Regions from separate parts of the Homo sapiens genome. Here region 1 is linked to region 2. The links come from fine-mapping of genetic effects on gene expression. Tissue or cell type: whole blood. Region 2 holds a variant in brackets; the other region holds the start of a gene. All regions are shown on one strand. Distances are from middle to middle.

What was found. PIP is the estimated chance that this variant, and not a neighbour inherited with it, causes the effect.
Region 1: it holds the start of LSP1, and the variant in region 2 is fine-mapped to the expression of LSP1 in whole blood (INTERVAL, PIP 0.92).

The regions. Positions count from the first base shown.
Region 1 is chr11:1,851,085-1,855,459 of GRCh38, forward strand. LSP1 (lymphocyte specific protein 1) reads left to right here and starts at 2,000. Exons shown (of 11, transcript NM_002339.3): 1 at 2,000-2,113. The coding sequence starts at 2,061. RefSeq lists enhancers at 731-780, 1,772-2,091, 3,942-4,371.
Region 2 is chr11:1,870,901-1,875,275 of GRCh38, forward strand. The region is part of intron 1 of LSP1 (lymphocyte specific protein 1); the gene reads left to right. Among named protein-coding and RNA genes, the nearest start is that of MIR7847, 7.0 kb to the right of the region's middle. RefSeq lists enhancers at 1-239, 240-777. The variant A/C (reference allele first, on the strand shown) is at 2,684.

The sequences.
Region 1 (4,375 bases), 20 kb before region 2:
GAGTCTAGCTCTGTCGCCCAGGCTGAAGTGCAGTGGCACGATCTTGGCTCACCGCAAACTCCGCCTCCCAAGTTCAAGCGATTCTCCTACCTCAGCTTCCCGAGTAGCTGGGCTTACAGCCGCCCGCCACCACGCCTGGCTGATTTTTATATTTTTAGTAGAGATGGGGTTTCACCATGTTGGCCAGGCTGGTGTCAAACTCCTGACCTCAAGTGATCCACCTGCCTCGGGCTCCCAAAGTGCTGGGATTACAGGTGTGAGCCACCGCACCCGGCCAAAATTCTCAGTTTTTGAACCACAGGGTTCTGCATTCTCATTTTGCTCTAGCTCCAAAAGTGAGGCAGCCGGTCCAGCCTTCGGGCAGTAGAGGGCAGGAGGGGGTGGACCCCAGCCTCCACCTGCCTGTCCTCTTCCTGGCAAGGTTCCTGAAGCTCCCAGCGACGATGCTGGGGCTGCCCTTCTGCAGGCCAAGGGAAGGACCTCAAGGGCAGGAGGACACAGGCATTGCACCTGCCGATGCAGTGCCTGGACGGGTGGGTGAGCGGAATGGCTGCAACCTGGAGGCGAGACCCTACCACCATGAGGGGAGCCGTTTCAGGATGGCCTCAGGATGGAGGCCGCATGGTGAGAACCGCAGGGCTCTGCCATGTGCCACTCTGCAAGGGGGACTTGGGGGCCCTTAGGGACCCCCAGGGAGGAGGCGTGGGGAAGACACAGGCATGGCCTGTTCATCTCCATGGCGCTGGGCCTGATCTGGTTTTAGCCCTGCCCATCGTCTGGGCCACGGATCCCTCTGGTGCCTCCACTCGTGGGGCTCTGAAAGCCTCTGCTGGTCTTTGTGGTGTGTTTGGTGGGTGGGGGGCTCGCTGAGTCCCAAGGAGGCGGCCTCCGGTTCGGCCCCACCCTGATGGGTCAACACTCTGGGCCCAGGGCCCTCCCAACCCCTGGCCTCTCTCCAGCCCCTCTTTGCCTTGGGACCCCCTGTAAGTCCTTGCTGGTTGGATTTCTCAGGCCCAGCCGCTGGCCAGGGCTCCCTTCTCCCATTCTCCTGCGCTGAGGTTTCCAGCAGGGAAGCCTTCGCCACCTCTGTGGCTGCCCTACTCTGGCCCAGCTTAAGTCCTCCCCTGCCTCAGCTTTTGGGGTCTGGCTCCTGCAGTCATGCATCCCTCCTCCTGACCCTGGAGCCACTGCGTGGTCACTCCCAGAAGCTGGGGACAGTGAGGGCTGGAAACAGCCTCCATCCCTCCCCTCGGGCTGGCCTATGCCTCTTGGGAGGGTCCCTGAGGCACTGCCTTTAGAGCCTGGGGACACGAACCACTCGGTGGTCAACTCCAGCGACCAGAGCACGGAGAGCAAGGGGCAGCGGGGGGACGAGGCGGATGCCCGACAGCTCGGCATCAGCAAGGCAGTCCAAGACAGAACAAGGCACCCGACGGGTAGAACGCAGGGGCATCCCGGGCACAGCCCCCAAAGCCACCTGGGACCCACAGCTGTTTGATGTGCTCAAGGCTATGACCCCAGGCTTCGAGAAAAGACTCCACCAAGTTCCATGAGCACCTGTAGGAGAGCCGGCCTCTGGGTAGATTTCACCCAAAGAAGCTAAAACGCTCACGTGGTGCTTATGGGATCACAGACGTGTTTGTCCCTGATGCTGCAGGAGAACTGGCCACTCACAGGTGGACCTGATGGCCAGAGCTACTAGCGGGGACCAGGGGTAACATGGGTCCCCCTCCCCGAGCCATGAAGAGCTGCCTGCGGCCATCTTGGCCCTCGCACCCCGTCTCTGTCACCCCAGGCCCCTGTAACTTGCTTAACGCTTCCTGAGGGGTGGTTTGGGTTTTTTTTTTTTTCTTCCTCTCCTCTTGTAGCAACAGATTAAAAAACAACACCCTGACCCAAGCCGAGACAGGTTCCAAACCTCAACCTGCAGCCGGAAGGGGGAAGTGAAACTCGGCTGGGGGTGGGGGCTCAGAAGCCGCCCCAGAAAGCACTGAAAGCCACAGCACGTACACCCACTCCAGGGATCTGCCAGCACCCTGTGGGGCCCAGACTACAGGCTGATGGCGGAGGCTTCGAGTGACCCGGGTGCCGAGGAGCGGGAAGAGTTGCTGGGGTAAGGGTCTGCGGCGACGCCCGGCGCCCTGTGCCGTGTCCACGGGTGCATAGTCCTTGAGCTGCATGGAGGGTGGAGAACTGAGGTGCCTGATGGGGAATCTGGGGCCCCCAATGGGAGAACTTGGATGTCCGATGGGGAAACTGGGGACCCACAGACAGGTGGCAGGAAGTCTTGCTGGGACCCCCCTCTCACAACAAGGGTGGAGGTCTCTTCCGCCTGCCTCTGTGCCCTGGACTCACTGGGGGAGGCGCGTGGGATCCTAAGCCCATGGTGGATGCCTGAAGCGAGGAGACCCCAAGACGTGTCCTGGACTGCCAGGGAGGAGCTGGGGACTGTGGGCCCTGTTAGCTTGGGAAGAGGCAAGGTGGGGGCTGGGGAGCAGCTGTTCTGGGATGGGTGGAACTGGCCCGGGCCTGGCCACCTGCCCACAGGACTATCTGAGAGGGGCTATCCTGCCTTGAGGGTCTGGAGGCCGCCAGGCTTGGGGCCCAGCAGGCCTCAGGGCAGGGCACCCAAAGCTGCCCTTGACCTGCGGTAAAGGACAAGGCCAAGGATTCTGGCAGGTGCCTGTGCTGGGTGCCAGGCACCGTGTGTTGGTTGGAGTGGGGACATGAGGGGGCATGGCAGAGGTTGTGTGTAGGACTGCCAGAGCTGGGCAGAAAAACCCCGCTGCCAAAGGCCTCCTAGCGGGCAGCTGTACTCTGTGGTACCAATGGGCATCCAGCCCTGTGCTGGGGTGGGTGGAGAGGGCTAGCGGCTTAGTAACTGGGCTCCCTGGCAGAGGGGAGCTGCCGGCCAGCAGGCATCCAGGCATCACAGCTGAGCCTCGCCAGGGGAACCCGAGTTGCCCCCGGTGCAGGTCCCAGAAGAGATGGGAGGGCTCAGGGCGTGCGGTGCAGGGACAGGTAGGGCTTTGAGGGGCAGAGGGGCGACGTGCTAATGGTCAGGGGATGGGGATCCGGTGCTGGGGATAGAGGCCGGCCTAGGAGCAGGTCAGCGGGGGCTGTGGCCTGGTGTGCGGAAGGGAAGGCGCTGGGGCCCAGGTTGCAGAAAGAGTGTGATGCCCGCAGCCACACAGGACGGACCTGAGAGGAGGCCCAGGGTGACGCTCACATACCCCAAAACTGCAGCCAGGGCTGCTACCAGTCTCTGCCTTGGTGCTGACAGCAGAGGGTCCCGGTCTACCCGACCCGGGGCGGTGCAGGGACCACCTCCCGGCCTTCACACAAAGCTCCTGTGCTGTTGGTGGCTGCAGTCACTGTCCTGTGTCTGTGTCCTTGGTGGCCGTCACATTGCTGTGGGTCTGGTATGTGTGAGGGGTCTGCATCTCTGACTTCTTGCTGCCAAATCCCACTTGGGTACAGGTGCGGGGGGCCACTGAAGGGACCCCGAGTGCCGTGAGTGGAGTGGAGGCTAAGCAGAGGCCGGGGCTGGCTGAGGGCTGGGTCGGGACGTCCGTGCCTGTCCCCAGGGAGAGGTGGGAGGATGCCCTGCCCAGGCCGTGTGCAGGGAGACAGGCTTCTGGGTGCACAACAGCTGTGTCCCAGCTGCAAAACGGGCCCTCCTGTCAGCACCACCCCCAGCCCTGGACTAGGTGCTGCTCCTGGTCACCTCATGCCCATAGAAGGGCAGGACATGAGCCTCTGGGCTGGGGCACCCCCGCCTTCCTCCTTGGCCTCATCCTTGGCCACCCCCTCCCAGCTGTCTCAAATGCCCTGGATCCCCCGGGCCAGGAGCGGGGAGGGGGGGTTGGAGCGGGCATGGCCAAGGCACAGATGATCCTGGGGCATCTTGGTGCAGATCCTGGGAGGCCAGGGCTGCACCTGTGCCGGGGCTGTCAGGCGCTCCAGCTGGAGAGCGGCGGTTCTCCTGGGCTCTGCAAAGCCTGGACCCCCTCCTTGGACATCCCCTGCCCCCGCGAATTGCATGGGGTGCGCAGCCAAGCCTGACCTTTCAGAATGAAACTGAGAGCCCCAGTGGGGTAGGCTTCTCATTTCACAAGGTGACTAAGGGAACCGGGGAGTTTCCTGTCTAGGATGGGACAGAAGTCCCCTGCACCCAGGCAGGGATGTATGGCCTGGGAAGCCCCCACACGGGAGTCCCCAGGAAGGCCCAGGCTGGGCAGGCTCAGCTGGGGCTGGAGCAGTGGACAAGACAGCCCCCCGTGCATGTCACAGAGTGCCAGGTACGCCAGCCTGTGACGGTCTCAGGACATGCCCTCAACACTAGGTCCAGGGCAGGCCAAGCCCCTCCAGCTGG
Region 2 (4,375 bases):
GGCCCAGGCGCCGCAGCGCTCCCGAGGGCCGTCGAGCAAAGGCGGGAGGCGCAGCCGGGCTGTCGGTGGACCTGTAGGTATCAGGGCTCCTTGGTCCCCTCCTGCGGGAAGCAGGCACCGAGTGGGGCTGCATGTAGACGCATGCGAGGGTGAGAGCTGCGGCGGAGGACGCTGATCGCGGAGTGCAGGCGAGGGCCCCAGAAAGGTCCCGCAGGTCGCCTCGCTCGTGGCACGGGCTCGGCAGCGTTGTGGTTAGTGACACGGAGGAAGACAGAAAGCCATATGCACAGCACGCAGAACAGGAGGAGGGGGGAAGAAAGAGCAGGCACGGGGCAGGCAGAGCCGCAGCCACGCCGCCGGGATGCAGCAGGCAGGGCCACCCACGAGCAGGGCGGGGCCCTAACCTCCGACCCAGGCTGGTCGCCGCAGATGGGGGCAGAGATGTGAAACAGCTGCAGAGCGGGACAAGGGTGCTGCCGGCACAGGGCTGACCACAGAGCACATCAAAAGAGGTAGGGCACCCAGCGCAAGGGAGGTGATGGGCTGGTCAGCAGGACATCAAGCCGGTTCTGGACCCTGCTCTGAGGACGGTCCCTGACCCAGCCTCTGAGGACCAATGGGAAGCCAGGGGTAGAGGGGTTGGGGGAAACCAGGCTCCATTTTCCAGTCTCAGCAGGGGGCCAAGGCTTGCGGCTCTGCGGAGGCCACACCATGAGGTTTCCAGGGTCATAGATGCCCTTTGGTCAGCGCTGTCTGCCGCTGCACGGGCACCCCTCCTGTTGGGTGTCTGGGTAGACTTGGGGGTCTGTCCGGCTGGCGTGGGCACCTTTGGGAGGGGGGTGTGTGTGGCGGGCAGGCCTGGGCTGTAGTCACCCCAGCCCGTGCTGGTAGAGTTGGGGTCTGTCCGGCTGGCGTGGGCACTTTTGGGACGGGGTGTGTGTGGCAGGCAGGCCTGGGCTGTAGTCACCCTGGCGCACGCTGGTAGAGTTGGGGTCTGTCTGGCTGGCGTGGGCACTTTTGGGAGGGGGGGTGTGTGGCGGGCAGGCCTGGGCTGTAGTCACCCTGGCGCACGCTGGTAGAGTTGGGGTCTGTCTGGCTGGTGTTGGCACCTTTGGGACGGGGTGTGTGTGGCAGGCAGGCCTGGGCTATAGTCACCCTGGTGCACGCTGGTAGAGTTGGGGTCTGTCTGGCTGGCGTGGGCACTTTTGGGAGGGGGTGTGTGTGGCGGGCAGGCCTGGGCTGCAGTCACCCTGGTGCATGCTGGTAGAGTTGGGGTCTGTCCGGCTGGCGTGGGCACCTTTGGGACGGGGTGTGTGTGGTGGGCAGGCCTGGGCTGTAGTCACCCTGGCACACGCTGGTAGAGTTGGGGTCTGTCCGGCTGGCGTGGGCACCTTTGGGACGGGGTCTCTGTGGTGGGCAGGCCTGGGCTGTAGTCACCCCAGCCCATGCTGGTAGAGTTGGGGTCTGTCTGGCTGGCGTGGGCACCTTTGGGACGGGGTGTGTGTGGCGGGCAGGCCTGGGCTGCAGTCATCCTGGTGCGTGCTGGTAGAGTTGGGGTCTGTCCGCTGGCGTGGGCACCTTTGGGATGGGGTGTGTGTGGTGGGCAGGCCTGGGCTGTAGTCACCCTGGTGCACGCTGGTAGAGTTGGGGTCTGTCTGGCTGGCGTGGGCACTTTTGGGAGGGGGTGTGTGTGGCAGGCAGGCCTGGGCTGCAGTCACCCCGGTGCACGCTGGTAGAGTTGGGGTCTGTCTGGCTGGCGTGGGCACCTTTGGGAGGGGGTGTGTGTGGCGGGCAGACCTGGGCTGTAGTCACCCTGGCCTGCGCTGGTAGAGTTGGGGTCTGTCCGGCTGGCGTGGGCACCTTTGGGACGGGGTGTGTGTGGCGGGCATGCCTGGGCTGCAGTCACCCCGGCCCGCACTCAGACTAGTCCTGGCATCACCACTCTGGGGCGAAGTTGATGCAGGAGCTCAGGGCCCTCATGCAGCACTGGGTGGGTCATGAAGCTCAGGGGGCTTCAGCAATGGAGGAGGCGACCCTATCCCATCCCAAGTTGGACAGCAGTCCCAGCGGTGGGGGGTGGGGGTATAGGGGGAAGCAGGTTCGGATTGGGTGGGTAAGGAACCCAGAGGAACAGACCCCTCCCTGTGCACCTCTCCCCAGAGGTGGAGGCAGGGAGAGATGGAGGCAGGGAGAGGTGGAGGCAGGGGGCAGAGACAAGCCTCAGGTCATCAAGAGTTGAGGGCTGGCATCTGGGATACAGGGAGGATGGGGAGAGGGGAGGGCTGTGCGGGTGGGGGGCGGCTCTGTCTCCCCTTGGCTGTGCCTCCCTGGGGACCGCTAGGCATACGCACGGCCACTGCACCCCTTCCTCCCTGCCAGGACCCTGCCCACTGCGGCGACCCCGAGGCTCAGAGCAGGCACAGGAGCCCCTCCTTTGAGAGACTTCCTGCCAGCTCCCCTCTGTGCTTCTTGATCCACATCATGGGTCAGCGCTGGTTTCTTGGCAACTGCTAAGATTTGTAAGGGCAGGGAGGAGATCTCACTCCTCCGTCTTTGGGTCCCTAGCACCTGACAAAATAAACTGCTGGCTAAGGAAAGATGGAGGGAGGGAGGGAGGGAGGGAGGAAGGAGGGGAGGAAAGGAGGGAAGGATAGAGGGAGGAGGGAAGAAGGAAGAGGGAGGA[A/C]GAAGGGAGGATGGAGAAGGGAGGAAGGGAAGGAGGGAAGGAGAAGGAGAAGAATGGAAGGAGGAGGGAGGAGGGAGGAACTGGACCGAGGCTATGGCTATGGAAGAATCATGCCCTGGGCCATCCCAGGCAGGCTGAGAAGAAAAAGCTGGAACCAAGTCTGGGCTAGTCTGGTGGTTGTGGGGCAGGAAGTAGCCATCAGGGTGGCAACCAGAAGAGCAGGGAGCCCAGCAGAGGAGGGAGGCCGGCAGAGGAGGGAGGCCGGCAGAGGAGGGAGGCTGGCAGAGGAGGGAGGCTGGCAGAGCAGGGAGCCCGGCAGAGGAGGGAGGCCGGCGGAGGAGGGAGGCCGGCAGAGGAGGGAGGCCGGCAGAGCAGGGAGCCCGGCGGAGGAGGGAGGCCGGCGGAGGAGGGAGGCTGGCAGAGCAGGGAGGCCGGCAGAGGAGGGAGGCCGGCAGAGGAGGGAGGCTGGCAGAGCAGGGAGGCCGGCAGAGGAGGGAGGCCGGCAGAGCAGGGAGGCCGGCAGAGGAGGGAGGCTGGGGACAGTGGGGGCAGGCCGGGGACAGTGGGGGCAGGCCGGGGACAGTGGGAGCAGTGTCGGGGACAGTGGGGGCAGGCTGGGGACAGTGGGGGCAGTGTTGGGGACAGTGAGGGCAGGCCGGGGACAGTGGGGGCAGGCTGGGGACAGTGGGGGCAGGCCGGGGACGGGGGGGCAGTGTTGGGGACAGTGAGGGCAGGCCGGGGACAGTGGGGGCAGGCTGGGGACAGTGGGGGCAGTGTCGGGGTGAGGATCTGGTCTCCCGACACCCCTTCCCGGGAGCGAGACCTCAGGCCCAGTCTTCACTCCCCAGCTGTGAAATGGGTGAGAACAGAGGGTGGCTGAGACTCAGGGCTGTTCAGGGTGGGGTGGGCTCTGGACCCAGCAGGCCCGGCACCCAGGCCAGGGCTCCAGGGGAGGCCAGGTGGGGCGAAGGCCAAGAAGGGGCCGGGGCTGGTCAGAAAGGGCTCCTGGTGACCAGAGCACTTTGCCTGAGCCAGCGTGGGAGGGAGGTGGGCTGGATGAGCCAGGGAGGCGCCGGGAGGGGCCTTGGCAGAGGCGACTCCCTCCGGCAGCCCCCAGGCCACTGAACCCTGGGTAGTGAGAACCGGCAGGGGAGGCTGCAGACGGAGGAGTGGAGGCTCCTTGGCTTTGGGGGCTCTGAGTAGAAGCACCTAGGGGGTCCCTCAAGAGGTCCCCAAATGCTGCCCCATGGTGAGGAAACAAGGAGAGGCCCGGCAGGGCCCCCCTTGGTTACAAAGGGCTGCCACTGTGAGAAGGCAACACTGCCGGCTGGGGCTGGGCTTTCTACCTCACCAAGCCTCTTCCCACCCAAAGGGCCCAGAGAGGGGCAGCTGCCCCCCACAGCGGGCACAGCACCTCCTCCCTGTGTGATGGGGTGGGGCCCACAGTCTCCTTTCTCGCGGCCTCCCTGGGCTGACCCTGGGTCCCAGCTCGGCCATGGGGGCTTCGGCATGTAAAGCCCATGGGGGGCAGAGCCTCCGGCCCCTGCCAGCTTCTGGCTGTCTGTGTCGCCCCCAGCACTGGGCTGGTGCCGTGGAGGGAGGCTCCGCCCTCCCCCCCATCAACCCGCTGAGGAGTTCTGTCTTCCCAGGGTTGTGAGGGAAGCCAGCTCTGCAGGCCGATGTCCAAGTCCA